Linked DNA regions of Homo sapiens. The protein of the gene in region 4 purifies or fractionates together with the protein of the main gene of each other region. This does not show direct contact. Each region holds a gene or a part of one and is shown on either strand. Other genes may lie near its edges. The genes, in order: SERPINB2, SERPINA1, KLK7 and CA8.

Region 1 (7,033 bases), on a different chromosome or scaffold from region 4:
CAAGAAAATGACAAAGGCTACATAAAATACATACCAAACAAGCCATGGCATAATGGTGAATTATGGTCTTCCCATTGAAATTAGGAGACCTGGGGTAGGGTGGGAGTGGAGGTTGGCTATGGAAGGCAGGTGCTGAAGGGGGAAAGAGTGCAGACCCCTTTGTCCACGCTTACTCCCCAACTCTATCCACCCTCTTGTACTCCTTGCATTATAGAGACAGAATAAAAGGAAAGAGGTTTGACTTGGGGGATAGTGTCTCTGGAAAACAGTTGCATTTGTTTTCCTGATTTATGACTCTGAGATTGGGACATTTGCAATGGGAAGAGGAGGAAGCCCCAGAGGGTACAGGAAGGGCAGCTGTTACGCAAGGCCAGCCCTAGGGAGCTGGTGTGGAATTCCAACTCTGCTTTTATGAACTGTTGAATTGTAGAGAACTGCTTTGAAAGTGACTTCATTACTTGTTTGGGATCCAGCCATTTCAATTACAGGTTTCACTTACTTCCCGGAAGCTCGCAGACTTCTCACCAAACAGCTTATTGACACTTTCCAGTAAATAATTCCCTGTGGATGCATTGATTGCAGAGCTGAGAGAGCGGAAGGATGAATGGATTTTATCTGCAGCTTGTGCCTTGAAAAGAAAGAAGGAATTCTTTATATATAACACAGAACTACTAAACAAGATAGTTCTTAAGCCATGGTAATAGTTTTTGAATACAATCATGAAATGCTATATTAATACATACTTTATTTTTGGTACATTAGAGGAATCTTTGAGAAAATCATTTCGATAAGGATGTGGTACATTAAAACTAATAAGGTGAATTTTAATTTCTTTCCAATTTTGCTCTGTCTATGGATTGGATTTAACCAGGTGACCAACAGCCTAGAAGAAAGGCCCCTTCTCAGTTTCCTAAACTTCAAAGTCTCTAAGGAATTTTTGTTGTATTTATAAGATGGATAAGTTCTGGGGATCTAATGTACAGTATAATGACTATAGTTAATAAGATTGTGTTCATTAATAGTTATAGTTAATAAAACTGTTTACTTGAAATTTGTGAAGAATATATTTTTTAAGTGTCCTCACTATACATACACACATACATACAAATGGTGGGTAATTGTAGTGATGGATGTGCTCATTAATTTGACTGTAATCATTTCACAATGTATAGGTATAGCAAGTCATCACACTGTACATCTTGAACATGTACAATTTTTATTTGTCCATTATACCTCAGTAAAGCTGGCAGGGAGGAAATGTTGCCTTAGTAATGATCTTACAAAGTTCATATAGCTTCTCTAGATACCTATTTTATGGGGCAAACTATGCAGTGGAAAACATGGGTTTTAGAAAACCACAAAAGTGAATGGTTATTTCAGTTCTCAAACTGAAGTTTGTAAGCACCATGTCAGACACAGGGCTTGGTCACAGCAGCAGCCTGTCCTAGGGCAGGGGACAGAGCCCTCCTGATGGACTGCCAGGTACCACAGAACACCTGGCGGAATCTCCACATGATCAGGATCCTGTCCACCTCCTCTAGCCCATAATTCCCTGGGCAATGGGTAGAAGGAGCTTCAGAGTGCCCAGGAAGAGAGCTTTGGGAGATACCTCTTCATAATCTACCTCATAAGCATGACTGTGGAAGTTGGTTGCCAACAGGAGCAGTCTATACTCAGTTTTTATAATTTAACTGGATAGCTGACATTTAAGGAAATGGAGTACTGAGGAAAGGTGTTACTCCCCGAGATAGCTGATTGATAAATAGATAAGATAGACAGATGACAGAGAAGATAGATGATAAATAGATGATTCATAAAATATATAGATAGATAGGATTGATAGATGTATGATAGGTAAGATAGATGAGAGAGATCAATGATAGATGATAGATTAGATAGATAGAAGGAAAGTTACCTGAAGGTCAGTGATTTCTCATGCAATCATTGGGCCCAGCCTTCTGCCATTTCTCAATCAATTGTCAGTCCCTACCCTCTCTCCTCTGGAAATCCTTATCCATACACGTGTATTCTAGGAGTCTCTACTGTGGATTTATGATAAATTACACATACCTCACCAATGACAGAGAGGCATGAGAGAATTTAGAAGTAAATAGGCTTGGCCTAAAACTCATGAAGTCTGGATTCTGTCCTGGCTCGTCTCTCGTTATGGGTATCATCTTAGGACATGTTTTTCTTAATGACTCTGAGTCTTAGTTTTCTTTCTGTGAATGGGGGAGGGTATATTCGCTTCCTTCCCAGTCTGACACTGTGGCTTTAAGACAGGAAGATTGCAAAAATAAACCACAAAAGAAATTTGGACCAGTAAGTCAGATACCTGCAAAATCGCATCAGGATAACTACCCTTCTGGATCTGCTGCATGAACCCACAGCTGGTAAAGTTCTCTGGAGTCATGGGGGTAACTGCATTGGCTCCCACTTCATTAAACTGAAGCACCTGCAATCAGAATTAGAGAAAACGGTTACACTTGCCCACGGATTTACTGAACTTTTAAAACAGATGGCTATCAGGTGGCTCTAAAATGGTCCTAGATCTTTTCCCTTCCCTTATACATGGGGAACAACCATAGATACTCAATACTCTTTCTGTGTAATATAAAAGTATCAGCCAACCTAAATTTCCCTTATAGAAAACAGCATGAGGTGTTTTAGATTAATTTATATCCTGGCCATTTTGGAAAACAAATTGTTATTATGAAATGATTTAAAACCTCTTCCCCAAATTATCTAAATTATATCCAACCAATAAATGGTCTTGAAAAAAAAATGCCAGTATTTTAAAGAAAGTCACAAGATTAACTCAGAACCTTGTGTGTCTCTCTCTTTTCAGTGGCCTTATACACAAAATACTTTCAATCTGTCAAAAACTACAAGCCAGAGTCAGCTAAGGCATAAAACAGGTCATGCAATATTAACAGGGTTCACCTAAAATATTTACACATACCATATTCATACACAGAGAAATTTATGTCCATGTGAGGGACAAGTTGGTCTGATGACACTGTGAATCTCTTCGTATAGTAAGTAGGCAGTTTTGGCTGACACGGGGAAGCTGGCAGCAAGGACTGTCCCCTCTGAAGCTTCCTCAGATCCCCTTCCCACAACACTGCTGCCTGCCCGCCTTGGTCTGCCAGTCTTAATACCTGCAAGCTGGCCCTGCCTCCCAGCCACCCACCCCATCCCACCTCCTTGGGAACCCTTGGTCCTGCAGCACCTCCCTATGGGGTCCCTGAGGAGAAGCTGATCTGGTAAGTGGCTTGATGGTTGGGGTTCTGCTAATGAAGTTAATTAAGGCAGCCTTGTCCAGCAAGTTGGTGAATTTCTGGGCTAGAAGGAGAGGTGTTAGGGTTTGTGAGGTCTTTTTCTGCTCTTTGAGTCATACATCGTAAGTCCTGCCTAGTACTCTCTGAAAAGAAGTGGTGCAACTCCACCCTCACGTAAAAGAAGAAGATTTCCTACGACAGCTTGGCTGGTTTTCCTCTCTTCCAAGGAAATTGACCCTTAAATCAGGGTTCTTTGGGCTAGCACTAAAGCCTTCCTGAATCAGTGTTAAAGTCACTCAGGGAGATGTCCCTGCAAAAGTGGGACTGTGAGCTGCCCCTAGTCCACACAAAGGCCACAGAGAAAATAGTGAGGCAGTTTGGCCTGGATGGGTCTGTTGCCTCACTGTAAGGAAAAGAGCTTATATCCTAATTCCCACAGACCTATGCCATCCAGGAGCTTATATCTTTTATGTATTCTTTTCTTTCACTACAAATGTACCACTTCTAACAGCTACAGCAATTCTCAACTGTGTGGCCTCTTCTTGCCCTGATTCCCTCATCTGTAAAATGAGTACGGTAATCATCGTACCTACCTCATAATATTTTGTCTTATGTGAGTAAATTTATAAGAAGTTCTTAGAAAGATGCCTGGCTAAGGCACTAATAAGTATTGGTTGTTATTATAGCAACTGCTACTAAGTGCCTTACATAGTACCTCTAATCTTCACAACTTTCTTGCATGCTACACATTTTTATTCCCATTTTGTAGATGAGAAAACTGAGATGCAAATGGTTTCAATGTCCTCACACACATGTAGTAAGGAACAAAGCCATGACTCAAACACAGATACGTCTGTCCCCAAAGTCTGTGCTGCTTTCTCCAGCCAATAAATGTCTTTTTCTTTTTATCTGGGAAGCAATCATATTAACATTTGAATTTCAAAATCTACACATGCAACAGAGTTGTCAAAAGACGATATATATAGAGTCTCAAAAAAAAAAAGACTATATAGAATCCTCGCATAGTCCCAAAGGCTTAAAGCACTTCTTAGACACAGAAAAGCTGTCTTGTGTCCAGAGCAATCAGTTTATTTTCCTCTAGTACCAAAATCAAGATTTTTACTTTAACAACCCAGAGCACTTCATTTAGCATTTGCTCCCAAAATATATTGCTACTGATTCCTTTACATTTAAAAAACAAAAAAACCTAGGCCGGGTGCACTGGCTCACGCCTATAATCCCAGCACTTTGGGAGGCCGAGGCAGGTGGATCACAAGGTCAGGAGTTTGAGACCAGCCTGGCCAAAATGGTGAAACCCCATCTCTACTAATACAAAAATTAGATGGGCATCGTGGCAGGCGCCTGTAATCCCAGCTACTCGGGAGGCTGAGGCAGGAGAATGGCTTGAACCTGGGAGTTGGAGGTTGTAGTGAGCCAAGATCGCACCACTGCACTCCAGCCTGGGTGATAGGGCGAGACTCCATCTCAAAAAAAAGAAAGGAAAAAAGAAAAAAACCTAAGACCTGATGTTTCTAAAGCTTTTGTGCCAATTTACTATCTTTATTCTTTCAAGGCAAAAAATAAAAAATAATGGGGAAAGAATATTGCAAAAGACTACTTGTGTCAGGGAGTTGAGCAATTGAGTTTTGTTGTAAGTCTCAATGTTTAAACTGTCACAAACACAGAGATTGATTCACCCATCCCTTGTCTTCCTGCAGCAATATTGGCCAATGCTCTCTCTGTGAAACTTCAAACTTCAAATGAGGCCCACCTTACATGGGTCACCATGTGCATGGAAAGAATGTATTTACACTCAGGTACATTCTCGTGGGAAACTGGAAACCAGCCGGCGGCATCTTGGTGTGACTGCATGCACAATGCATGCGTGTCCTTAAAGCATTTAATGTTAATGTTTGTATGTGTGAATGCAAAGGAATTTTAATGATATCATGGCCACATCGAGGTCACTAACCTTGGAAGTAACATGATCACAAGAATTTTGTATGTGCTGAGTGACTATTACAGTAACGATTGCAGTGTATAATTGAAGTAGTCCGGCATAATTTCAAGGGCCCAGACTCCGTGGAAAGAGTTTCCTGACTGAGTCCACGTCCATTCACCAAGGAAGGCAGGCAGTGGCCTTGCAGAAATCCCTCACAATGATGTTGTGCATCCCATCTACCTTGGTTTTCAGGGCTGGCCATAATAATGCCAGGTCTCATTCTGCTACCGTGACCTCACAGGCATGATCTTCTGCAGCTACAACACTATCCATGCATCCTGTGGGTATAGTGAGCACCACCCTGGTATGTTTTTTTTTTTTTCCCTTTGTGATACTCTCTTAACATTATTAGAAGGAATTCTTCATAGGAATAGGGAACAAACACCACAGTGGCACAGTAATGGGAAGGAGCCCAGGCTAGGAGTTAGGAGACAGTGGGGGCTTCTCTGACACCACCAGGGCTCTCATCTGTAAAATGATATCTGTCTTAAAACTGAATGAGATAATGGGTACAAAACACTAACTTTGAAAAATAAGAATATTATATTATTAAAATATAAGATGTGGTCACTCATAACTGTGTCCAGCCTTGCAGGCTATTCAACTCCCATATGCCTTCAACAGCTACAGTTGAGGGATTCGGGGGCTTGGCTGTCTTATAGATTTGAATCTAAGGAATTTGTGTTGTAAGGATCAGTGCTTCATTACCTGTGATGATTGCTGACCTCCTGAGTTAAAATGTCTTTAGCATAAAACAAGAGCAGTTCTCCAATTCCATTCAGGAACTACTCGGCCCAAATGTGGAGCTTCAGCTCAAACTCACCTTGGCCATCTGGTCTTCGGTGCTGCCCCTGGAGCCCATGTAGACCATGGCCATGGTGGACGAGATGCTCCATGGGGAGAGGAAGAGGTTCTGGGTGGGGCTTGCTTTTGCCAGATGCTTGAATAAATTGAGGGCAAAGAGTGTGTTTGCCACACAAAGATCCTCCATTGTTTCAATCTAGAAGCAAAGAGAGGAAGAAAAAAACAGCTCTGAAACATAAGGTAACATTTTGGGTGAGGTCAGCAACAGTAGGACAGGCTGCATTCTGTGTAGGGACAGATTCCCTGTCTGTTCTTCCTCATGGAACAACATGAGGCAGGTCAGGGACAGCTTCATGGACATACCACCTGTGCAGCCGTAAAAAGCCCCTTGTTTAGCCAAATGCCCTCCTATCGCCATCTTGAAATTCTTGATAATTTTAAACAAAAGGCCCACATTTTCATTGTGCACCAGACGCTGTAAATTACATAGCCAGTCCTGAGATACATGAAGTGTTTTGTATGATGAGCAGCGACACTTTGTGGCATTCCATAGAATAACAATGACAATATATAGGGACAGGAGTAGGAATTGAAGCCAGATAGGCAGACCCTAGGATCATGCTCTCAACTTCTATGCTGCCCCCACAAGCACAACGCACACATCCACACCACACACACTGCCACACAGGAAGATATACACATATTGAAATATATGCCACCTGCATACATACCTTGTTGCATCTGGTAAGACGGTCAATCTTCTTTCTGCTTTCCTGCTTCTAAAGTGACTTTGACTCATTGTTTGAAGGTTTGGAGTTTCACCCAGCCCCTATCCCAGAACCCCTTCCCTATATGCACCACACATACCACAGCCTTACTAAAAAAGACTTCCTATACTGGGGTGTTCATTACTGGGAGGACTAGAAGACCCCCTTCTTCTGCCACC
Region 2 (7,503 bases), on a different chromosome or scaffold from region 4:
AGGCGAGAGCCCCTGCACCCAGCCAGGATTCTTGGTTAGAATGGCATCTGGGTTCAATGTAGCAAAACAGATGGAGAATTCCCATGGCTAGGCATGAGACAGGTGCCCTCCTAGACAGGGGAATTCTGGGCTCAAAGGAGGTGGAGAGGCTGGTGCAGGGAGGGTGGCGAGGGGGTGACAGCTGGGAGGAGCACATTCCCCCACACCCATCCATCTTTCCTGGTGTCACATCACCTACTCTGGTTTCCTCCTTTCACAGTGAAGAGTTTGAAGCCCAGAGAGGGTCAGGGCCTTGTTGAGGCTATACAGCAAGTCAGTGACAAAGCTGGAACAAGTCTTGGCTTTCCCAGCACTCAGATCATGAACTGAGACAGCTGTGTCCTCAGATCTCAGATGATGAATGTCAGAATTGGGCTGTGACATTGGTCTCAAGCATCATGTTGGGTTCATTATGCCTCCCAAGCTGTTCCTTATAACATCAGGACTCCAAAACCTGCTCTCTCCTGGCCCTTCTATCAGAGGCAGCACCCTGCACTCCTAAAAGCTAGTGCCTGGGAGGGCGACTGGAGAGGAGAAAGTCGCCATCTGGCCAAGTACCCCATGGTGTACGGACACTGAGGCCAAGCTTTAAACCAAAAGAATGAAGGCTTCATGGTGACATTTCTGGGATCGGGGCAGGTGGGAGCACTCTTTGCGGGGCCAGGGACAGGGAAGCGAGCCACTCCCTGCCTAATCTCACACCATTTCTACCCGGGAGCATAAAATAAGGGACCAAGAGCAACCCGGCAGGGTGCAGGGAAGAGAATCTCGCCTATGGTCAAACAACCTGTTGAACTGGGCAATAAATAAACCCAAGTGTGACCAGGCCCTGTCACTTACTGGCAGGGGGCCTGGGGTAAATGACTTCACTTCTTTGAGCACTAGCTTCATAGCTGTACAATGGAGAAAAGAATCCTTTGGACAGGGATGAGGAATAACTGACGTAATGCATGAGTGGGCACCAGGTGAGGAAGCCCTCCCTGTACCTGCACACAGGTTGAGCTCCTGCCCGAGAGATGGTAGATTTCTTCCCGGAGAGCCTGCTGCACTCCCCAGGACCATTTCAGCAGGAAGGGGCTCCTGCTCAGCAGTGAACAGCATCTGAGTTTGGCAAATTTTCCATTAAATTATCCAACTGTTTACTGCCTGCCAGCTGCCTAACCCTATGCTAAGCAAACATCAGCCTCAGCGTCACCATCATTGCCACACTTACTAACACCTGGTGTTTTACAGGCACCGTATCATCTAATCTGTCCTCAAAGCTTACCCTATAAGGTGCAAATTATTAGCCCTATTTTATAGATAGAAAAATTGAGCCCCAAAGAGCATTAAATAACTCACTAAAAATCACAGAGCTACTTGCTTACAAAACTGAGATGTAATCCTAAATGTTTTGTCTGGGATTAAACAGATTTCACTCCAAAACCTGACATTGAATCATCTCTGTGTACAAAGCTGAAGCCAGAAGTCTTGAATCAGAAAACTTCAGAGGCAGCCTGGCTAAATGAAGAGGGGAGCATCAGTCTGTGGCTAAAATTAAAGGCTCTGAGGCCAGATTGCTCCACGTCAACTTGCTATTAGCTGTGTGACCTTGGACAAGTTACTTAACCTCTCTGAACCTCAGTTTCCTGGAGATGAGAAAGGTGGACTTTGTCATAGAGCTATTGTGAAATTAAATACACATAAAATGCCAAGAAGTGCCTGCTGCGCAGCAAGTTCTCGAGAATACCAGTTCTTGCTGCTATTGCTGCAGGTCTTTTAGAGGCGTTCTATAGGAAACTGGCCACCTTGGCCTTGGTCATCTTTTTGACCTGTCTCCAAAACTCAGTGCAGGAAAAATTAAATCCTTCCAACACTTCAGAGATCAAGGTCGGGTGGGGTGAGGGGAGGGGACAGAAGTCAAAGGTTATCATGTTTTGCCCAAGAGAACAGAGAGGTTGAGCAACTGTCTGAAGTCACCGAGCATCAGAGAGGCCTCAAGTCCAGCCCAGGTTTCCTGTTCCCCATCCAGCGCCTGAGACCCAAGAGAAACAGTGACACTAGGGCCAGGTTCAAGAGTTTGGGGACTGGAGCCAGGTGCCTGAGCCCGAATTATGGATGGTGTGTGATTTGGGGCCAGTTATTCACCTCTCTGTCCCCATCTTCCTCATCTGTAAAATGGGAATCACACTAGTAACTGCCTTGGAGGGTTATGAGGCTTAATCACGCACTGAGCTTAGCCGTGGCCTGGTGCAGAGCGATTATTCAGGAATGCCAGCTTGAGCCCTGGGTGACAGTGCCCCTCACAGCTTCCTGTCCTCCACTGGGACAGGAGGGCCCAGAGGTCCACGGTGCATGGGGAGGCCCATTTTGATGTAAGGCTGAGGCCTGGCACAGGTCTGTTCCTGGTCATATCTGGAGGGGATGGAGAATGTGAGCCGGCGTTCCTCCCCACCCCTCTCTGGACCTTAACCTCCTCATCTATAGAAGGGGAGAAAGATGCATGCCCAAGCAGTAGGAGAGGTGGTGAGGCTTATAGGAGACAACAGACAGGAGCCCCCGACAGACAGAGGAGCTGTGCAAACAGAAAGAAATGGCTGCGCTTTGTTGCTGTTGCTGTATCTTGGCTGGTGTCCCCCATCCTGGGGTGCCAGGACTGCAGACCTAGACACCCTCATCCACTTCTGCTTACAGGAACCAGTGTATCCACCAGGAGGTACCGAGGGGGGACCGGGCAGGACTGGGAAACAGGACACAACCCTCATGGCTGCTGTTATTATGAAAATAGGAGCTCAGCTGCAGCCTCTCCATCTGCCCTGCACCTCAGCAGGCGGATACCCACTCCACAACCCCCCTCCTGCCCCAGACCTGCTGCCTGCCTGGGCCATGGGGAGCTCAGAAGCCTCTCCAGAACCTCTCGCAGTGAAAGGCATACTTACGATTCACTGTCCCAGGTCAGTGGTGGTGCCTGAAGCTGAGGAGACAGGGCCCTGTCCTCGTCCGTATTTAAGCAGTGGATCCAGAGGGGCAACGGGGGAGGCTGCTGGTGAATATTAACCAAGGTCACCCCAGTTATCGGAGGAGCAAACAGGGGCTAAGTCCACTGGCTGGGATCTGAGTCGCCCGCCTACGCTGCCCGGACGCTTTGCCTGGGCAGTGTACAGCTTCCACTGCACTTACCGAAAGGAGTCATTGTACCTGGCTCAGAAACCACAGCGTCCTGTGTCCAAGGTGGAGGGGGTGGCGTGAGTCAGACAGTCTCTGGGAGAGTACCACTTAGCTGGCCCTCTGCTCTCACTGCAGAATCCTTAGTGGCTGTTCCACTGGTAGCAAGATCTACCATTTACTGAGTCACCCCAAAATGCCTGATGCTGAAGACTTACTGCCGCCCTGGGAGATCAGAGTGGGTTAGAGCCCATTTGACAGATGAGGAAACAGGCTCAGAGCGGAGAGACCGCTCATCCAAAGTTACCCAGTCAGCCTTAGACACAAACACCCTCTTGATGGTCCCGATGGAAAAATGGAGCATGACTGAGGCAGACACAACCGTCAGGCTGGCATGGGGGGCCGTGAGACAGGGTAGAGGTGGGGAAGCACATCTGTAAAGAAGAGCTGTGCTGCCTCAGGCAGGCCGCTTCACCTCTCTGAACCAGGAACTGTTTCACCTGCATCCCAAAGAGTTGGAAGTTTCATTCCCAAGCATGCTTGTGAAGTGCCTCGGGTGAAGTGCCTGGCACACAGTAGGCTCTTTATGTGGGTCTGCACAGCCCTCTGCTTAGTCTGCCCCCCAGGCTGCTCAGAGCAGGAGGAGGTTCAATTTTGACCAGCCTCAGGCCTGTTTCTGTTTTTGCTCCTGGAAAACCAGTGTGATCCGTATACAGCTTGGAGTTTCTTTGGATACATGGCCCCCACTCTGGGGTTGTTGGAGGCCTTTGGAGACTGCTGGGGGTGGAGGGGAGGGGAGGTACAGGGTTGAGGCTAGTGGGGCCCCACTTGATTGCAATCCCTTTAAAAGCCTAAATCAGATTGCATCGCCCGCTGTGCAACCCGCAAACCTGCTTGGGAGCTGGCGTACGTGCCGTAGATACTTGCAGAGTGAATGGATGAGTGCATTTTTGCCCCTTCTGTCATTCACCAGTCCCATTTATGCCTCCACCTTGGGGCTCTACCAGGCGAGTGACCCACAGGATCCTCCAGCACACACATTCAGACCAGGGAACCCACTTACTGGCTGTGAGGCCTCAGGTGAGTTGTTTAACCGCTCCGAGCCTCAATTTCCCTATCTGTAAAATGGGGATGGTGACGGTATGTACCTTGTTGAGCTGCTGTGAGGATTAAAATGCAACAGTTCAAGGAAAGCTCAGAGACGGGTACTGGGTGTGCCCAGAAAGCCCCTCCTGATGCTGCCCTCCCTCCCCCGTGTCAGGGGCTGGTGTCACTGGGGTGGGGTGGGCCACACTTGAAGAGCTTTCCTCCAGGCAGTCTCTCATTCAGTTACCCTGTGAAGGGAGTAGGTACCACCCTCCTTTCAGGCAGCGGGAAACTGAGCTCAGACTCCCCTCCCCTTCTCTCTGAGCTCCCTTCCCTGCAGCTCCATCCCCTGGCTTCAGGGCCCCTGTCCTTCCCCTGAGCTGGCTGAATGGATATTCCGCTGCTCTACATCCACTCACAGCTCCAGCACTGGGCTGTGGTTGAGGTCGCCTGCCCTCGGTAGCTCCTGGGCATTTCTTCCCCTCTCTGGGCCTTTGTTTTCCCATCTGCACAATGACCCCCACTCTAAGCCCTGCTGTCCCTCCCACCTGTGGAACTGAGTGAGCAGCAGCAGCAATGTCCCACCTTTCCTGCTCTCCTCAAGCTCTCCTCAAGCTCTGTCTCTTCTGGCAGGCACAGGAGAGTGGCCTGAAGGCTGGCAGGAGGTTGCCGCCCCTCCAACCTGGAATTCCTGGCAGCAGCAGCGGCTAGGCCTTCCTCGGAGGCCCGACCCCCTCCTCCTTCTTGGTTCAGCTCAGGACTCTGAGGGTTGCTGCGTGGAGGCAGTGCATGCCCTGGGCACAGTGCCCAGTTCCTGCCCACCCAGGAAGTAGACTTCGGGTGGAGGCAGTAGGCTGGGGAGGGGCGGGGAGCTTGGACAGGAAGGAGCCTTGCTCATTGCCCGGCAGACACAAGACTGGGCCCTCATAAACTCAGACAGCCCGGCATGTCACCTGTTGTACCTGCCCTTTCAGCTCTGTGACCCGGGACAAGTCACCCTCTCCCTTTGAGTTGCCGCAAGAGGTACAGTCACACTGCCCAGAGGATTACTAGAAATGACAGGCCTCGCCCTCCTGGCACAGACCTGGCACCAATAACTGGCAGGTTTCTGGGGCCAGCTGCAGAGGGAAGAGGACTGAGCCACCTATGAAATGCCCAGTGGGCAGCCCCACAGTTGGGCAGGTCTGTGTGCACTGGGGAGGTGTGTGTCATAGGACCTGGCTGGGTGCAGAAGGGATTGCAGTGGGGAGCTGGGGCTTTTGGAGGAGGAATGAAGAAAGCATGGGTGGGAGCAGGTGAGGCAAGTAAGGGGCTCAGAATTTGGGGTCCTGCTCTTTTGGCAGGGCTCTAGGCTCAGCCCCCGCCCTGCTCTGGACATCCATCCTGGGAGGAAGGGCTAGGATAATCTGGAAAAACGCACCAGGACAAAATCCCGGGGGTTGTGGTGGGAGGGGTGGGAGTACTCAGTGGCCATTCACAAGGATACTGTGCCCCCAGGAACCCCAGGACATGAGGGGGAAAGTCTTGTCCACCTGGTTACTTCCACAATTGTCTATTGCAGCATCTGGGCTGATCCCCCCAGAGGAAATGCATCATGGGAAGATCCTGTGAGCTGGTCATGAGTAAGGGGCATCTGGGGGAGGCCCTGCCCCACCACAGGGCCCTGCCTGGAGATGGGAGCCTCGTGGTATGGGCTGGATAGGGATGTGAGAGTCGAGATTTGGGGTCTGCAGCAAGGAATCGGGTAAGGGGGTGAGGTGTGCCAGTGGCCCTGGGCCAAGTAAATCAAGACTGAGTGGCTGGTCAGGAGAACAACAGTGGACTTCATGGGAGCTGAACTCATTGGCAAAGTGCCCCCGGAGAGTGCTGGCCACCCCACAAACACACACACCCCATGCACACCCTCACTATGCACCCTCCTTCCCAGGCACCAGCTTCCTTCTTTGAGAGTCAGTGCAGGTCACTGGTTAAGGCGTGGGTTCGGGATCTAATATCTGGGGCCAAGCCTTAGCTCCATCGCTCTTTTTGTGAGCTCTTAGACAAGCCACTTAACCTCTCTGTGCCTCGGTTTCCTCATCTGTGAGATAGGAAGACTCTAAGAAGAGTCACTTCCATCAGGACTGTGAAGATCGAATGAGATAATAACATTTAAGCACTTCGGGCAGCCTCTGGCATGTGATGGGCCCCAAGTCAATGCTAACCACCAAAGGCCATGACCTTTGGGGATGTGTCCTGGCTCTGAAAAACCATATAGATGGGTCTCAGGGGTCTAAGTGGGGGAACAACTGCTGCGTTTGGCCCCAGATTTGGGGAGCAGCACCTGTTGTTGAGGGACACCTCCTCAGATTCAAACTTCCATTTTTTCCAGAAAAGGCTGTCAATCCCCTCTTTAGGGGCCGTGCTCATTTTGGCTTTCCGAAGGTGAAGGGCCAGGTGCCTTCAGCATCTTTCTGAGCACCTGTGACATGCAGAGGATGTGGGGTGACTGCAGCTAGGTGGACTTGGATCCGGGGGAGGCCCTCAGTTCTCTGAGCCTTGGTTTCCTCATCTATAAAATAGGGATAAAAGTTTCTTTCCCACATAGCTCTTCTGAGGCTTAGATGAGGCGATGCTGGTGGGGTGTTTAACACAGAGCTCTGTTAGCATAATGGACACTTGTGTCTGTCTTCTTATAACTCATTTAATGAATGAATGAAGTTTGCACCATTTTTTCACCTCCTCCAGTCACCTTTCAAATTAGCCAACTTGCAAAACCCCAGCAGACACACTTTCCTTCTGTGTGTAATCTCCTGAGCCACTTCCTGTGTGTTGGGGAGGGGAGGGGGGATTTCTGCATTTTCTGGAACTATGTGGCCTACTCACAGCTTCTTCTTTTTTTTTTTTTTTTTGAGACAGAGTCTCACTCAGTCACCCAGGCTGGAGTACAGTGGCGCAATCTTGGCTTACTGCAAACTCCACCTCTCGAATTCTGGAATTACGAGCGATTCTCGTGCCTCAGCCTCCAGAGTAGCTGGCATTACAGGCATGTGCTACCAATTCCAGTTAATTTTTGTATTTTTAGTAGTGACAGGGTTTCACCATGTTGGCCAGGCTGGTCTCAAACTCCTGGCCTCAAGTTATCTGCCCGCCTCGGCCTCCCAAAGTGCTGGAATTACAGGTGTGAGCCACTGTGCCTGGCCTTTACTCTTTATCCTTACTCAGACAGAGAAAAATAAGGCAAAGCTATACATTATA
Region 3 (6,956 bases), on a different chromosome or scaffold from region 4:
AGAGAGAGAGGGACAGAGACCCAGAGAGAGGGGAACAGAGACCAGAGAGAGAGGGGGACAGAGCCCCAGAGAGAGGAAGACAGAGAGCCAGGGAGAGAGGGGGACAGAGCCCCAGGGAGAGGGGGACAGAGATCCAGAGAGAGAGGAGGGGGAACAGAGACCAGAGAGAGAGGGGAACAGAGACCCAGAGAGAGAGGGACAGAGACCCACAGAGAGAGGAGGGGGAACAGAGACCAGAGAGAGAGGGTGACAGAGACCCAGAGAGAGAGGGTGACAGAGACCCAGAGAGAGAGGGACAGAGACCAGAGAGAGAGGAGGGGGAACAGAGACCAGAGAGAGAGGGGGACAGAGACCCAGAGAGAGAGGGACAGAGACCCAGAAAGAGAGGAGGGGGAACAGAGACCCGGAGAGAGAAGGGGACAGAGACACAGAGGGGAACAGAGATCCAGAGAGAAAGGCAGACAGAGACCCAGAGAGAGGGGGACAGAGCCCCAGGGAGAGGGGGTACAGAGGCCCAGGGAGAGGGGGACAGAGATCCAGAGAGAGAGGGGGACAGAGACCAGAGAGAGAGGGACAGAGACCCAGAGAGAGAGGAGGGGGAACAGAGACCTAGAGAGAATGGGGGACAGAGACACAGAGAGAGGGGAACAGAGATCCAGAGAGAGGGGGACAGAGACCCAGAGAGAGGGAGACAGAGAGCCAGGGAGAGAGGGGGACAGAGCCCCAGGGAGAGGGGGTACAGAGGCCCAGAGAGAGGAGGACAGAGACCCAGAGAGAGGAGAATAGAGCCGTAGGCACAGAAAGACTGCCCTTCCACCCCCATAGCGAGCTGGAGACGCTGGTGCACCTCCAGCAGAGACTTGGGCGGCACCTACTTCATCTTGCAGTGGGCGGCAGTGAGCACCCAGCGCTCATTGACCAGGACGCCTCCGCAGTGGAGCTGATTGCCACTGAGCAGGGCCACCTGCCATGGGTGGGAGCCTCTTGCACATGGGGCGCCATCAATAATCTTGTCACCCTGGGCTGGATGGAGACATGGAGGAGCACGTGGGTAGCTAGCATTAGGGGAAGGCTGAGGCTGCACCTCAGGGATTCCCAGAGTCAGAGATGGACAGAGACAGATGAAAATGTGTGGAGAAATACAGAGAAAGCAAGAGATAGGGATAGAGACAGACAGAAGGAGCCCACTCAGAAACCCAGGAGGCGCATCTCATCTGGGGAACCACAGAGAGACCCTGAGCACAGGAGGCAGGGCCTGGAGGGGACAGAGACCCCCTGAGTCAGCAGAAGCAGGAAGAGCGGGGGCTTCAGCCGACAGTCTGGTCCTCCCAGGATGGAAGCTGTTTGAGGAGGGAAGGGTTCTGACTCAGGGACTCCTTGGAGAGGGTCAGTGGGGGCCCTGAGGTGAGGTCAGACTTCCCAGTCCAGCTTTCACCTTCTTCTCCTGCAGTTTCCAAGGCTAAGGATAGCAGTAAGATCTGCAGGGGCAGGAGAAGGGATCTTGCCATGGTGCCCTGCTGAGCCGCTCAGGGGCTGCCAGGCGAGGAAGGGCCTCTCCTGCTGGAGCTGAGAAGGAGAAAGCATTCAGGCCCAGCCCCTCCCCACTCAGACCCAGGGGTCCAGGCCCCAGCCCCTCCCCCCACAGACCCAGGAGTCCAGGCCCCAGCCCCTCCTCCCTCAGACCCAGGGGTCCAGGCCCCAGCCCCTCCTCCCTCAGACCTAGGGGTCCAGAACCCCAGCCCCTCCTCCCTCAGACCCAGAAATTCCTTTCTCTGGCCTCTCCTTCCTTACACTCAGAAGTCCAGACCCCTAACCTCCTCCTCCCTCATACCCAAGAGTCCAGACCCTAGCACCTTCCTCCCTCAGACCCAGGAGTCCAGGCCCCCAGCCCCTCCTCCCTCAGACCTAGGAGTCCAGGCCCCCAGCTCCTCCTCCCTCAGACCTAGGAGTCCAGGTCCAAGTCCCTCCTCCCTCAGGCTCAGGAGTCCAGGCCCCAACCCCTCCTCCCTCAGACCCAGGAGTCCAGGCCCCCAGCCCCGCCTCCCTCAGACCTAGGAGTCCAGGCCCCCAGCTCCTCCTCCCTCAGACCTAGGAGTCCAGGTCCAAGTCCCTCCTCCCTCAGGCTCAGGAGTCCAGGCCCCAACCCCTCCTCCCTCAGACCCAGGAGTCCAGGCCCCAGCCCCTCCTCCCTCAGACCCAGGAGTCCAGGCCCCCAGCTCCTCCTCCCTCAGACCCAGGAGTCCAGGTCCCAGTCCCTCCTCCCTCAGACCTAGGAGTCCAGGTCTCAGTCCCTCCTCCCTCAGGCCCAGGAGTCCAGGCCCCAGCCCCTCCTCCCTCAGACCCAGGAGTCCAGGCCCCAGCCCCTCCTCCCTCAGACCCAGGAGTCCAGGCCCCAGCCCCTCCTCCCTCAGACCCAGGAGTCCAGGCCCCAGCCCCTCCTCCCTCAGACCCAGGAGTCCAGGCCCCAGCCCCTCCTCCCTCAGACCCAGGAGTCCAGGCCCCAGCTCCTCCTCCCTCAGACCTAGGAGTCCAGGTCCCAGCCCCTCCTCCCTCAGACCCAGGAGTCCAGGCCCCCAGCCCCTCCTCCCTCAGACCCAGGAGTCGAGACCCCCAGCCCCTCCTCCCTCAGACCCAGGAGTCCAGGCCCCCAGGCCCTCCTCCCTCAGACCCAGGAGTCCAGAACCCCAGCCCCTCCTCCCTCAGACCCAAAATTCCTGTTCTTCAGATCCCTAGAGACCCAGGAATCTAGGCTCCGATCTTGCCCTTCCCTGTGGAACCCAAACTTCTGACTCTGTAGTTCGTTTTTCCCTAAAAGGCCCCAAATTGCAGACTTCCAGGCCCTCACTGCTCAGGACCGGGAGTCTAGGCTGCAGCCCCTACCTCTCGAGAGCAGAGTCAGGCTTGGAGCCAGCATCACCCTCTCCCCTACAGGTGCACCCTTGATGAAGCCTCTTCTCACCTCGAGAGGATCTGATGTGATCCAAGTTCCGACTTGGGCTGGCACACAGCTGGGCTCCAAAATCTTCATCCCTCTGCTGGGCCGTCCTCTTATATCACCCCCCGCCCCATGCCCGGCCCCAGCGCCCTGGGGTGCAGGCGGAGCCGACTCTGGGACACCCCCGCCTGCATTTGCGGTTCTGGTTATCTGGAACCCTGACGCAGCGAGAGCAATTGGCACCACTGCACTCTCTCTCCACCCTCCCTCCGAAGGACGGGCGGTGCCCAGCTCCTGCGCCCCCGCACATTCTGGTCCCACAGTCCCTCCTGGCTGCTCTCGGGGGAGGGACCCGGTGCGCTGGGTCTGAGGGGCAGGAGCGGGATTCAAGCAGTCGCTGAGCTCAGAGAATAGGCTCTGGCTCGGGTCCTTCTCTGGGGCGGTTTTCTTTCTTTCTTCCCTCCTCCCTCCCTCCCTTCCTTTCTTTTTTTTGGATGGAGTCTCTCTCTATCGCCAGGCTGGAGTGCGGTGGCGCGATCTCGGCTCACTGCCAGCTCCGCCTCCCAGGTTCAAGTGATTCTCCTGCCTCAGCCTCCCGAGTACCTGGGATTACAGGCACGCACCACCACTCCCAGCTAATTTTTGTATTTTTAGTAGAGACCGGGTTTCACTATGTTGGCCAGAATGGTCTCGATCTCCTGACCTCATGATGTGCCCGCCTCGGCCCCGCAAAGTGCTGGGATTACAGGCGTGAGCCACTGCGCCCGGCTTCTGGGGCCATTTTCTTGCCCTCACCCCCTCTCAGGGGTGGCCTAGACCCTACATCCTAATTCTGGCCCGCCTGGGGGAACTTGTCCAAGCTGATCCCAGTCGTGCCTGTAATTACGCCTGAACCCATTCCCAACTCTAACAGAGAGGTGTAAGTTAAAAACAACGCTTTCCCTAACCCCACCCCACTAATATTTGCCATGTTTAGGATCTATGTTCTTATGGTCATTTTAATCATGTTATACATAGATTTCTTTGTATATTATGTATTTATAACAAAAATGTCTGTACTTAACATTATCTAATAGAACATTTTTGAGGGCTTCATTTATTAATTTATAAGCAAATATTTATTTTTCTTTTTTTAACTTTTCAGTTCGGGGGTACATGTGCAGGATGTGCAGGTTTGTTGCGTAGGTGAACGTGCGCCATGGGGGTTTGTTATACAGATTATTTAATCACCCAGGTATTAAGCCTAGTACCCATTAGTTATTTTTTTCTGATCCTCTCCTTCCTCCCACTCTCCACCCTCTCATAAGCCCCAGTGTGTGTACCCAAAGGAATATAAATCATTCTGTTTAAAGACACATGGACACGTACGTTCATTGTAGAACTATTGACAACAGCAAACACAGGGAATCAACCTAAATGTCCATCAGTGATAGACTGGATTAAGAAAATGTGGTACGTATACACAATTGAATACTACGTAGCCATAAAAAAGAACACGATCATGTCCTTTGTAGGGACGTGAATGGAGCTGGAGGCCATTACCCTTACAAACTAAAGCAGGAACAGAAAACCAGATATGGCATGTTCCTACTTACAAGTGGTAGCTAAATGATGAGACTGCATGGACACATAGAGGAGAGAAGAATCTTTCTTATTTTTTTTTTTTTTTGATGGACTCTGGCTCTGTCACCCAGGCTGGAGTGCAATGGCACGATCTCGGCTCACTGCAACCTCCACTCCCCCGTGTTCAAGTGATTCTCCTGCCTCAGAGTCCTGAGTAGCTGGATTACAGGCGTGCACCACCATGCCCAACTAATTTTTGTATTTTTAGTAGAGATGGGGTTTCACCATGTTGGTCAGGCTGCTCTCCAACTCCTGACCTCAGGTGATCCACCGGCCTCGGCCTCCCAAAGTACTGCGATTATAGGCCTGAGCCACCGCGCCCAGCCAAGGATTTTTGCTAAATGAGTAGATTATAGCTGCTCTTGCCACAGGGGAGGAAAATGGGTAACTATGTGAGATGATGGACATGTTCATTTGTTCAGCTATAGTAATCATTGTCCTATGTATATACATCGCATATGATCATATTGTACACTTTAAATATACACAATAACATTTATTTTTTAAAAAGAGGAAAACTTTTCCCTCTTTGTACATTTAGATTACTTTTCCTTCCTTTATAATGGTTGTGTAATATTCCATACTATACTTGTATCATGATGCATGTCATCTGCCTCAAATTGAAATACACTTGGATAGTTTTAATTATAATAATGCTGAGATGAACTTCTTTGTACATTCATCTTTGTTCATTGTAGTCATTCAAACAGCATCCATTGAGCATCTACTCTGTGCCAGAAACTATTCAGGCTCTTGGAGACACAGCAGTGATAAAACAGAGAAAAATTTCTGTCTTCATAGAGGTTTTTGTTTTGTACTGTCAGGTCAGCACAAAAATAAGCAAATAAAATGTAGAGTTTGTTAGGTGGTTGTAAGCGCTATAAGGGAAAATCCAAGCAAGGAAGAGGGTTGGGGAGTTACTGATTCCCTCTACCCTCGAGGATCCCTGAGGTTATAATATCAGGAAGGTTGGCTGCAAAGACCCCACGTGAAGGTGATATTTGAGCAAAGTCTTGAAGGAGATGGTGGAGGGATCCAGGTGGCTGCTTGAAGGTAGTGAGTTCCAGGCAAAGCGAGCAGGCAGGTGTGTTAGCCAAGGAGCATATCTGAAGTGCCTCAGCAGACAAATCACTGCGACCAATACAGAGTGACCAAAGGAGATGAGGGCAGGTGATGAGGCCAGAAATATAACAGGACTCTGATGACATGCGGTCTGAAAGGTCTTTGGCTTTTATTTTGAGTAAGACAGGAACCATTGTTGGACACACTTCTAAAGTTGGAATTGACCTCAACCTCTAAATTATATCCCCAAAATGGGATTTATTTCTCCACCCTGGACCTAAAACTTATCTCAATCCTGACCCCAACTCAATTCTTTTTTTTGCTTTGTTTTGTTTTGTTTTTGTTTTTGAGATGGAGTTTTGATCTTATTGCCCAGGCTGGAGTGCAGTGGTGCGATCTCAGCTCACTGCAATCTCCGCCTTCCAGGTTCAAGCAATTCTCCTGACTCAGCCTCCCGAGTAGCTGGGATTACAGGCATGTACCATCACACTTGGCTAATTTTTTTTTTTTTTTTTTTTAGTAGAGATGGGGTTTCTCCATGTAGGTCAGGCTGGTCCCTAACTCCCGACCTCAGGTGATCTGCCTTCCTCAGCCTCCCAAAGTGCTGGGATTACATGTGTGAGCCACCACGCCTGGCACCCCAACTCGATTCTACATTTGACCCATAATAGTAGACATTATTGTTGTGTCCCCAGGCATTCACTCCTTCTGCCTTTCTATCAGAGGCTCCATTTTGTTTGGATAATACTTTATCCTCATCAGGACTATAAGCCTCAATGAACCAAGCATTGAAGCCATATTTCGTTTGCTTAATTAGTTGGAAAATGGACATGTGCTGTTCTTCTGGCCAATGAGGAGGAGGGGAAGACCACTGAGGCACTTCTAGGAAAGACTTTCTCATTTTCAAAAAGAGGCACTGAAAGGGGACTTTTTTCTTCTGCTAGATGGTGTCTTTTCTGGATGCAAATTCTGGAACTGTGGCAGCACCCCAGGGACCACAGAGGGAAGTGACCAGAGGACTAAGTCAAAACACTGCAGGTAGCCCACCAGAGAGGTGAGGATCAGCTGGGTCTTTGATGAAGTCACTGAGCTGGTGAATTAACCAACGATGGAGCCTCTTCATGTCATGATTTTTCAGATTCCCCTTCTGGGTTAGAGTTGCTTGGTCCTTGTAGCCAAAATCATCTTTATAAGACCTCAATGTTCAATCAGAATATTGACTCAGATCCCAAATCTGATCCCAAGCCACAAATCCAAATCCGATTCTAACTTGATTCCATATCTTGAAGCCACATAAATCAACAAACTCAACCATGCCTCCAGTCTTAGCTCTCTT
Region 4 (7,033 bases):
ATAAGGAAATAACTAGACTAATAAAAAGTTTTGCTCTTTCAGTGATTTCTATTAACTCTCTAAAGACTAACTTTTAAAATATAGACCATAAATTAGTGTTGGATTCTGTCCATCCTTGACCTTTCAATCACTTTCACTAGTTCAAGCCATTTAACTTTCATCTGGAAAGGTATGACTGATCTACAGGAAGCTAAAACACAAAACAGACATTTTCCTTTCTCAGAAACAATGTTTAACTCAGAACTTCACTCTGAAAGATTCAAAGTAGCACACTCACCTGTAGCTGGGATATAGTTAAAGGGTATCGGAATAATATCCAGGTGACACCTTCACTGCAAGGTGGGATGGTGAGAGAGCCTTCATACACCCAGTAATCCCGCAGCAGAGGGTCTGCACAGCCACGTGGACATGTAATGGAAAAGGCAAGTGAATTAATAACAATCCTGATGACTCCAACAACAATTTTCAAAATTACAAACTGTCCAAATGATGCTTCTAAGATGGATGTCATTTTTAAACTAGAGCCCCACAGTCTTACACTACTCATTGTGGAGAAAATAATTGATAAAAAGCATGATGAATTCTCTATTATTTACAGTGATTTCTATCAATGGATTACTATAGATACCTGTCAAGTTTAATCACTTTAGAAGTGTATCTATATTTTGGGTTTTTTCACTTTATTAAAGAATTTACCTATTTCATATCTAATATTTATTGAATGCTTATGACGTGCCAGCAATTTACTTTAATTCATTTAACCTTCACAACAAACCAGTGAGATAGGTAGTAATATTAATGTTATATTTCAGATGGGGAAACAGAATCTCAAAAGAGTAGTAGTTTGCCTGAGGTCACTCAGCTAATAATCACTGGCAGAGCCAGGATTCAAATTCAGGCAATCTGGCTTCATAACCTGTATTTTTTTTTTCTTAAGAGACAGGGTCTGGCTCTATCACCCAGGCTGCTGGAGTGTGGTGGTGTGACCATGAATCACTGCAGCCTCAAACTCCTGGGCTCAAGCGATCATCTCACCTCAGCCTCCCAAGCAGCTGGGACTATGGGTGCACACCACCACAGCCAGCAATTATTTCTTCTTTTTTTGAGAGCAAGGTCTGGCTATGGCTAGTCTCAAACTCTTGGCCTCAAGCAATCCTCTTGCATCAGTCTCCCAAAGTGTTGGGATTACATAGGTATGATCATGTCTGTCTGAAAGCCTGTATTTTTAACCATTCAGTTCTAGCTACCACTATACTGCTTCTGCAACAGCAAAATACTAAAATCATATTACAATAAAACAAAATGAGTCATTCTTATGAAATCCTTTAGCTCTGCATTAGAGGAATTTATGACTAATATGATGGATAAATGGTTAACATACGATAGAAATTGGTTTGTTGTAGAGCAATTAAATGTAGAAAATAGAAGATACAATGCATCAACTGGTTTTGTTTAAAACACTAAGGGACAGCACATAATTTGGGCAGAGAAATGTGAAGATCAAAATTTTATATACAACAACCTTTAAATCATATTCTGAGTACTTAATGTATAATTGTTATCTGTACAGAAATACAAGTGGAATAATACATAATAATAGTATTACTGCAGAGAGGTAACCTTATAAAATTAGATACAAAGTTTATTTTACTCTAAAGATTAAGAACTCCACTGATCAATCTTAGAAGTACATGAAGGTTTTTTCTTTGTTTGTTCGTTTGTTTGTTTGAGACAGAGTTTCACTTTGTCACCCAGGCTGGAGTGCAGTCACGTAATCTCGGCTCACTGCAACCTCCACCTCCTGGGTTCAAGCGATTCTCCTGCTTCAGCCTCCTGAGTAGCTGGGATTACAGGCATGAGCCACCACACCCAGCCAAAGTTATTTTATTATACTGATGCTTTACACAGAGGTAGCAATTTTTACAAATGACAATCCTACGAAAGCTCTTCATGGATCAATGGAACTAGTGGCAAAGTGTCTCTTTATTATTTCAAAAGGTTTACTTCCATATTTAGAGTAATCTGGAAATGGTATCTGCTAAACAGAATACAAATTGCAAATAAGTTTTATTAATTAACAATATATAGTTTTACATAGTCTGAAGAAAACAATGTGACTATAGCCACAGTTAAAATTCATTTTATGCAATCAGGTAAATACTCACCTGGTAATAAAGTGTTAGGATTAAAGCAAGGTATTGTTTTGGACTTCCCCTGAAAAAGAAAAAAATATTTACCCAATGTTAATGTAATATTTCTAGATTTTAGAATAAAAAATCTATTAGAACTAAAAAATTAGAATGAAGTCTTTTCTGAATGGCCTCATCAGGTCCCACAGACTTGTGGGTATCTCCTTCCACCTTCTCATTGGAGTAACATTGTCTGGTTCCTGCTCTAATTCTATGGCTATTTTCTTTGCTACCACAGTTCAATTCTCCCTGTAAGTCCTGGTGTGGAACCTACACTTGGTGCCCCATCTGCCCCATGTCAGTTACCTTTTCTGCTCTGAGCACATTCATAACAGAGATTTGGGCTAAATTCTCATTGTAAAATGCCTGAACCCTGGATGGGGGAATTTTCAAAATGCCTTTCCTCCTGCTTGCTTTCATTTCAGCTCCTAACCTTTCCGGCATTACAACCAGGCTTGCAACTTCCTGTCTTGTCCTATTTGGATTTGGTAACTCAGCTCTGGGATCTATGCTAGATGCTCTCCTCATCTGGAAAGGGAGATCTGATATAGATGGAAATATTCTGTTCCGATCAGTGTTTATCAAAGCTAGATACAAATTTCAAGGGAATCATTTGTGCTCTTATTCAACAATTCACATTTAAGATCATCATTTTAAATCATGTCATTTAAATTGCTTAGACTTTAGAGGAAAATAGTCCTGTCATGTGACTCAGATGTTTCTTAAAAGATTTTTCTCTATTGATACAGATGCAATAGGGAAAGTTATTGCATAACCTCCAAGTCCCTTCCTGACTCCCTGGGACTATTTCAAACATTAAAGAATCTAGCTTACTTGCCTCCCCGATCCCCCTGAATTCCATAATGACTGGTGTCCTATTAGATGATGAAATAAAGGAAATTTTCTCAGTCCACTGCAGTTGTACAAATATAAGTCAAAATGTGCCCTTATTGTCTTTTTATCAGCTTTTTTTATCTGGACTGGGCATCCCTTGGAAGCTGGGTTCCTTCCAAACCTACTCAGGAGATCTTCAGTGGAGGTTCTGCCTGGTTCAGGATACCCTGGGCTGTGCTAGTATAAAGCTAATCAAACTTGATTCCCAAATTGATCTTTCTTAAAACTGGCTTTGGGTCTCTGGATCCTCTGTAATTAAACAAGTTCAATTTCTGCTCTGTATCTCCAGCAGCCCTACAAGACTAGACTACTTCCCCTCCCCAAGGCCACTCACATTCAGCTAAGTGTGAGCCAAGAAGGCACTGCTTATAAGAGAGACTGGCATTGGGCCAGGCATGGTGGCTCACGCCTGTAATCCCAGCACTTTGCAAGGCCGAGGTGGGTGGATCATGAGGTCAAGAGATCAAGACCACCCTGGCCAACATGGTGAAACCCTGTCTCTACTAAAAATACAAAAATTAGCTGGGCGTGGTGGTGGCATTGGCTTCCTAGCAATGCTAGGCCATATCATGGCAGGGTCATGTGGATCACCTTCTCTTGGATATTATCTTACCACATATGTGTACTTGTTTTCTTTTTTTAAATTTATTTAACATAAATACTTTGAAATATGATTCCCCAAATTTTTATTTGTTTCATTTATACAACTTTCCTATAGCATGCAGGTAGGAAAGGGTTAACTCAGCAAGCCTGAGTTGCTCAAACCCTGCACATCCCATATAAAGGCCTGTCTTCAGGACTAACTCTTTGCTCCTGGGATATAACCTCTGAGCTTGGAATATTCTACCTGATAAGACTGTTTCTGTGTGCCTGCAGCCTTGGGCCATCCTGTATTTATGGTGAACTCCTGTTGTTACATGTCTGAGGCCTTGAGACATACTGTACCAATTGGAACAGATAAGCTGATGCTGACAATGTGACTTATGGCGAAGAGGGCAGGGAGACGGCTGCTGCTAGAGAGTGAGTAGCTGAGGTCAGCTATGTTGCATGCGTTTAGTGCTTGCATGATTGACCCCTAATAAATCTCTGGACACTAAGGCTAGAGTGAGCTTCCGTAGTTGTCAACACTTCACACATGTTGTGACACATCATTGCTAGGAGAATTAGGGGCATCCTCAAGTGACTCCACTGGGAGGGGACACCTGGAAGCTTGTGCCTGGTTTCCCCTGGACTTCATTCCATGCGCCTTTTCCCTCTGCTTTTTGACCTATTTCTTTTCACTGTAATAAACCATAACCACAAGGACAGCAGCTTTTCTGAGATCTGTGAGTCCTTCTAACACAGCATCGAGCCCGCAGGTGGTCACAGGGAGCTCCTACACAACCAGTATTTCTATATTATTTTAAATAATGACTTACCTTATACTGAATATCTTGGAGGATTTCAGTCACAGCCTTCAAGCCAACATGTTCCTTTCCTATCTGAAAAACATAAAGCATAAACCACAACCACAACATTTTTCAGTGTTTAGCTTTAACTAAAAAAAAACTAATAGGGCTGAGTGTGGTGGCTCATGCCTGTAACCCCAGCACTTTGGGAGGCCGAGTTGGGTGGATCACAAGGTTAGGAGATCGAGGCCATCCTGGCTACCACAGTGAAACCCTGTCTCTACTAAAAATGCAAAAAATTAGCTGGGCATGGTGGCACACCCCTGAAGTCCCAGCTACTCAGGAGGGTGAGGAAGAAGAATCGCTTGAACCCAGGAGGCGGAGAGGTTGCAGTGAGCCAAGATCATGCCACTGCACTCCAGCCTGGATGACACAGCAAGACTCTGTCTCAAAAAAAAAAAACTAACAGAACTCGGTTCTAGTCCATCTGAATGTCCTTTTTGAGGAATAATTAAATGGCCTTTTATTAATAACTAGGTCAATGTCTACTAAAGGTAATTAAAGTTGTGACAAACCTAGTATAATAAAGTATTAGTTACGTAAATGTCCAAGAACTCATTCTAAATTCTCTTTACTGTGTATAGGAATCACTCACTTTGCTATATGTAGTATATCAAATTACAAAATACTGTTAAATATAAAAATATCAAGGATATTTTTGAATTAAAACTACTCAGTACATGTTCAAACCCTTCCATGTTTAACTCTGGCATTTATAGATCATTGCTATAAAGATTTTAACAATACTGAAAAATTATATTAACTTAGAAAAGCAGGTGTGTGATTTTGTATGTTAAATTCACCAAAATCAAGACCTTTCTTGATTACTTCTAGACATAATTTTATAACTACCCTTCTATTCTTAAATAAATAATAATGTGCTTTTTATAGCCTTCTTTTTAAAAACATATCACTATATATTATTAGTGTATAAAATGCTCCCAAAAAATGGAGACAAAAAAATTCTAACATTTAATATTCTTGACTTTGGCTTTAAAACTTTTAAGTGAAATCTGACCAATTTCCAGTGGTCCATGATAATGGAGGAGAGTAATGGAGGTCATTTAGAACCTCAAATAAACAATCATTGCTTTTGTCAGTTTTTCTCCTTCCACATAGATATTTGGAGAATGACCTAAGAGAAGCCAGAGTAGCTGTAGATATGTTTACATTCTCTGTTTCTCCCAATGTTAACTAACTGCAAAACATGCAGATGAAAGAGCATCCAAAGGGAGAGGAGAGAGACAAGAAACGCTCTACCTAAGATAGGCCAGTCAGCTCTAAACAATCAAGACGTGAACTACTTTCCAAGAGTCTACAATTATTCCCGAGATAGGCTCTAAAAACAGAAAATAAATTTTGTAAAGTTAAAAACAAAAAAACATTTAAAACCTAATGCATATGTACCTGTGGCAGCAGCCTGAAATTTTAGGCAGAAATCATTACCCATTCTTCAGGAGAAATGGACTTCTCTTTTGTCTTACTGGTTTAACCATACTATAGCACTGGGAGGCCTACGTCTGCACTTGGGGTCTGTTTTCATCTCAGGCATCTCCTGTTGGGTTGTAAACTCTTTGAAGAGTCCACATATGAACCCTAAGGCCACTCAATGTGGTGCTCAGGAACAGGCTCACTTTGCACTGGACTGCCTGGATTCCAATCCTGACTCTGCCACCTCTTAGCTGTGTGGCCTTAAGCAAGTGTAGTTAACCTCTACATCCTTCCGCTTCCTCAGCTGTTTGCTGGAGAGGATAAAAATGATAGGGTTGAAGATAAGATTAAATCAAACAAAGACTGTGGAACAGGCTTGGGTCATCATAATTCACTTAATGTCCATTATTATTCTTAATCTGGATGCCCTACAGCATCAAATATAGTTTTTCCATATAGTAGCTCTTAACGACTATTACTAGCTCCTTCTATCTATAAAGACTCTACTTTATGGGCAAAACCTCATATCTTGCAAATTCTATAAACTCTGCTATTATGCCATCTCTTTCTTTTCCTTCCTTGCCAAATTTGTGTATGAAGAAATGATGACCAGCAAAAAGCAAGTACTGATGATAATCTCCACACCCCAGCTGCTAAAACCGTGCAAGCAGCTGTTCAGATAACACAACCTGGTACCAAGAGTCCACCAGGAACCTTGAGAACAACTCATTTCTCACCTCTCACCTTTGCTGTCTTTCGCCACCACTGGAAATGCAAACCACTTTGGTCCGTTCTCCTTTCCTGGCATCTCAGCCCTGAACCACCTGTTTTTTTTTTGTTTTTTACTTCTAACTCAATCTCTCCTTATCTTCCACTGCACCCTCTAGAACAGAACAACTCTGCATTTCTGCCAACATCTCCCACCATTTCCTGATCTACCTGAACCCTTCGAGTCTGCCCAAGGGCACAGCTCTTTTGCAGGCCTTTCAAGTGGACGCCATGCAGTCCCCCAGGGAGACAGACTGGGGTCCATGGTCAGTGCACTCTTGCTCCCTTCAGGGTGGAACTCTG

Evidence for each region.
Region 1: the proteins of CA8 (region 4) and SERPINB2 purify together in Homo sapiens (affinity purification with mass spectrometry; 3 studies listed by BioGRID and IntAct, with this or other methods). This does not show direct contact.
Region 2: the proteins of CA8 (region 4) and SERPINA1 purify together in Homo sapiens (affinity purification with mass spectrometry; 3 studies listed by BioGRID and IntAct, with this or other methods). This does not show direct contact.
Region 3: the proteins of CA8 (region 4) and KLK7 purify together in Homo sapiens (affinity purification with mass spectrometry; 3 studies listed by BioGRID and IntAct, with this or other methods). This does not show direct contact.

What each region holds. Positions count from the first base shown.
Region 1 is NC_000018.10:63,890,686-63,897,718, reverse strand, and holds part of SERPINB2 (plasminogen activator inhibitor 2), read right to left. Parts: exon of another isoform or gene 6,819-7,033; intron 6,284-6,818; 5' UTR 6,275-6,283; coding exon 6,107-6,274; intron 5,099-6,106; exon of another isoform or gene 5,000-5,098; intron 3,267-4,999; exon of another isoform or gene 3,183-3,266; intron 2,456-3,182; coding exon 2,336-2,455; intron 629-2,335; coding exon 500-628; intron 1-499. UniProt on the Homo sapiens protein: Inhibits urokinase-type plasminogen activator. The monocyte derived PAI-2 is distinct from the endothelial cell-derived PAI-1.
Region 2 is NC_000014.9:94,385,603-94,393,105, forward strand, and holds the start of SERPINA1 (alpha-1-antitrypsin precursor), read right to left. Parts: upstream 3,001-7,503; 5' UTR 2,958-3,000; intron 1-2,957.
Region 3 is NC_000019.10:50,980,892-50,987,847, forward strand, and holds the start of KLK7 (kallikrein-7 isoform 1 preproprotein), read right to left. Parts: upstream 2,960-6,956; intron 2,925-2,959; exon of another isoform or gene 2,881-2,924; intron 1,567-2,880; coding exon of another isoform or gene 1,509-1,566; coding exon 1,436-1,508; intron 1,024-1,435; coding exon 876-1,023; intron 1-875. UniProt on the Homo sapiens protein: May catalyze the degradation of intercellular cohesive structures in the cornified layer of the skin in the continuous shedding of cells from the skin surface. Specific for amino acid residues with aromatic side chains in the P1 position.
Region 4 is NC_000008.11:60,222,372-60,229,404, forward strand, and holds part of CA8 (carbonic anhydrase-related protein), read right to left. Parts: intron 4,565-7,033; coding exon 4,502-4,564; intron 2,215-4,501; coding exon 2,166-2,214; intron 391-2,165; coding exon 278-390; intron 1-277. UniProt on the Homo sapiens protein: Does not have a carbonic anhydrase catalytic activity.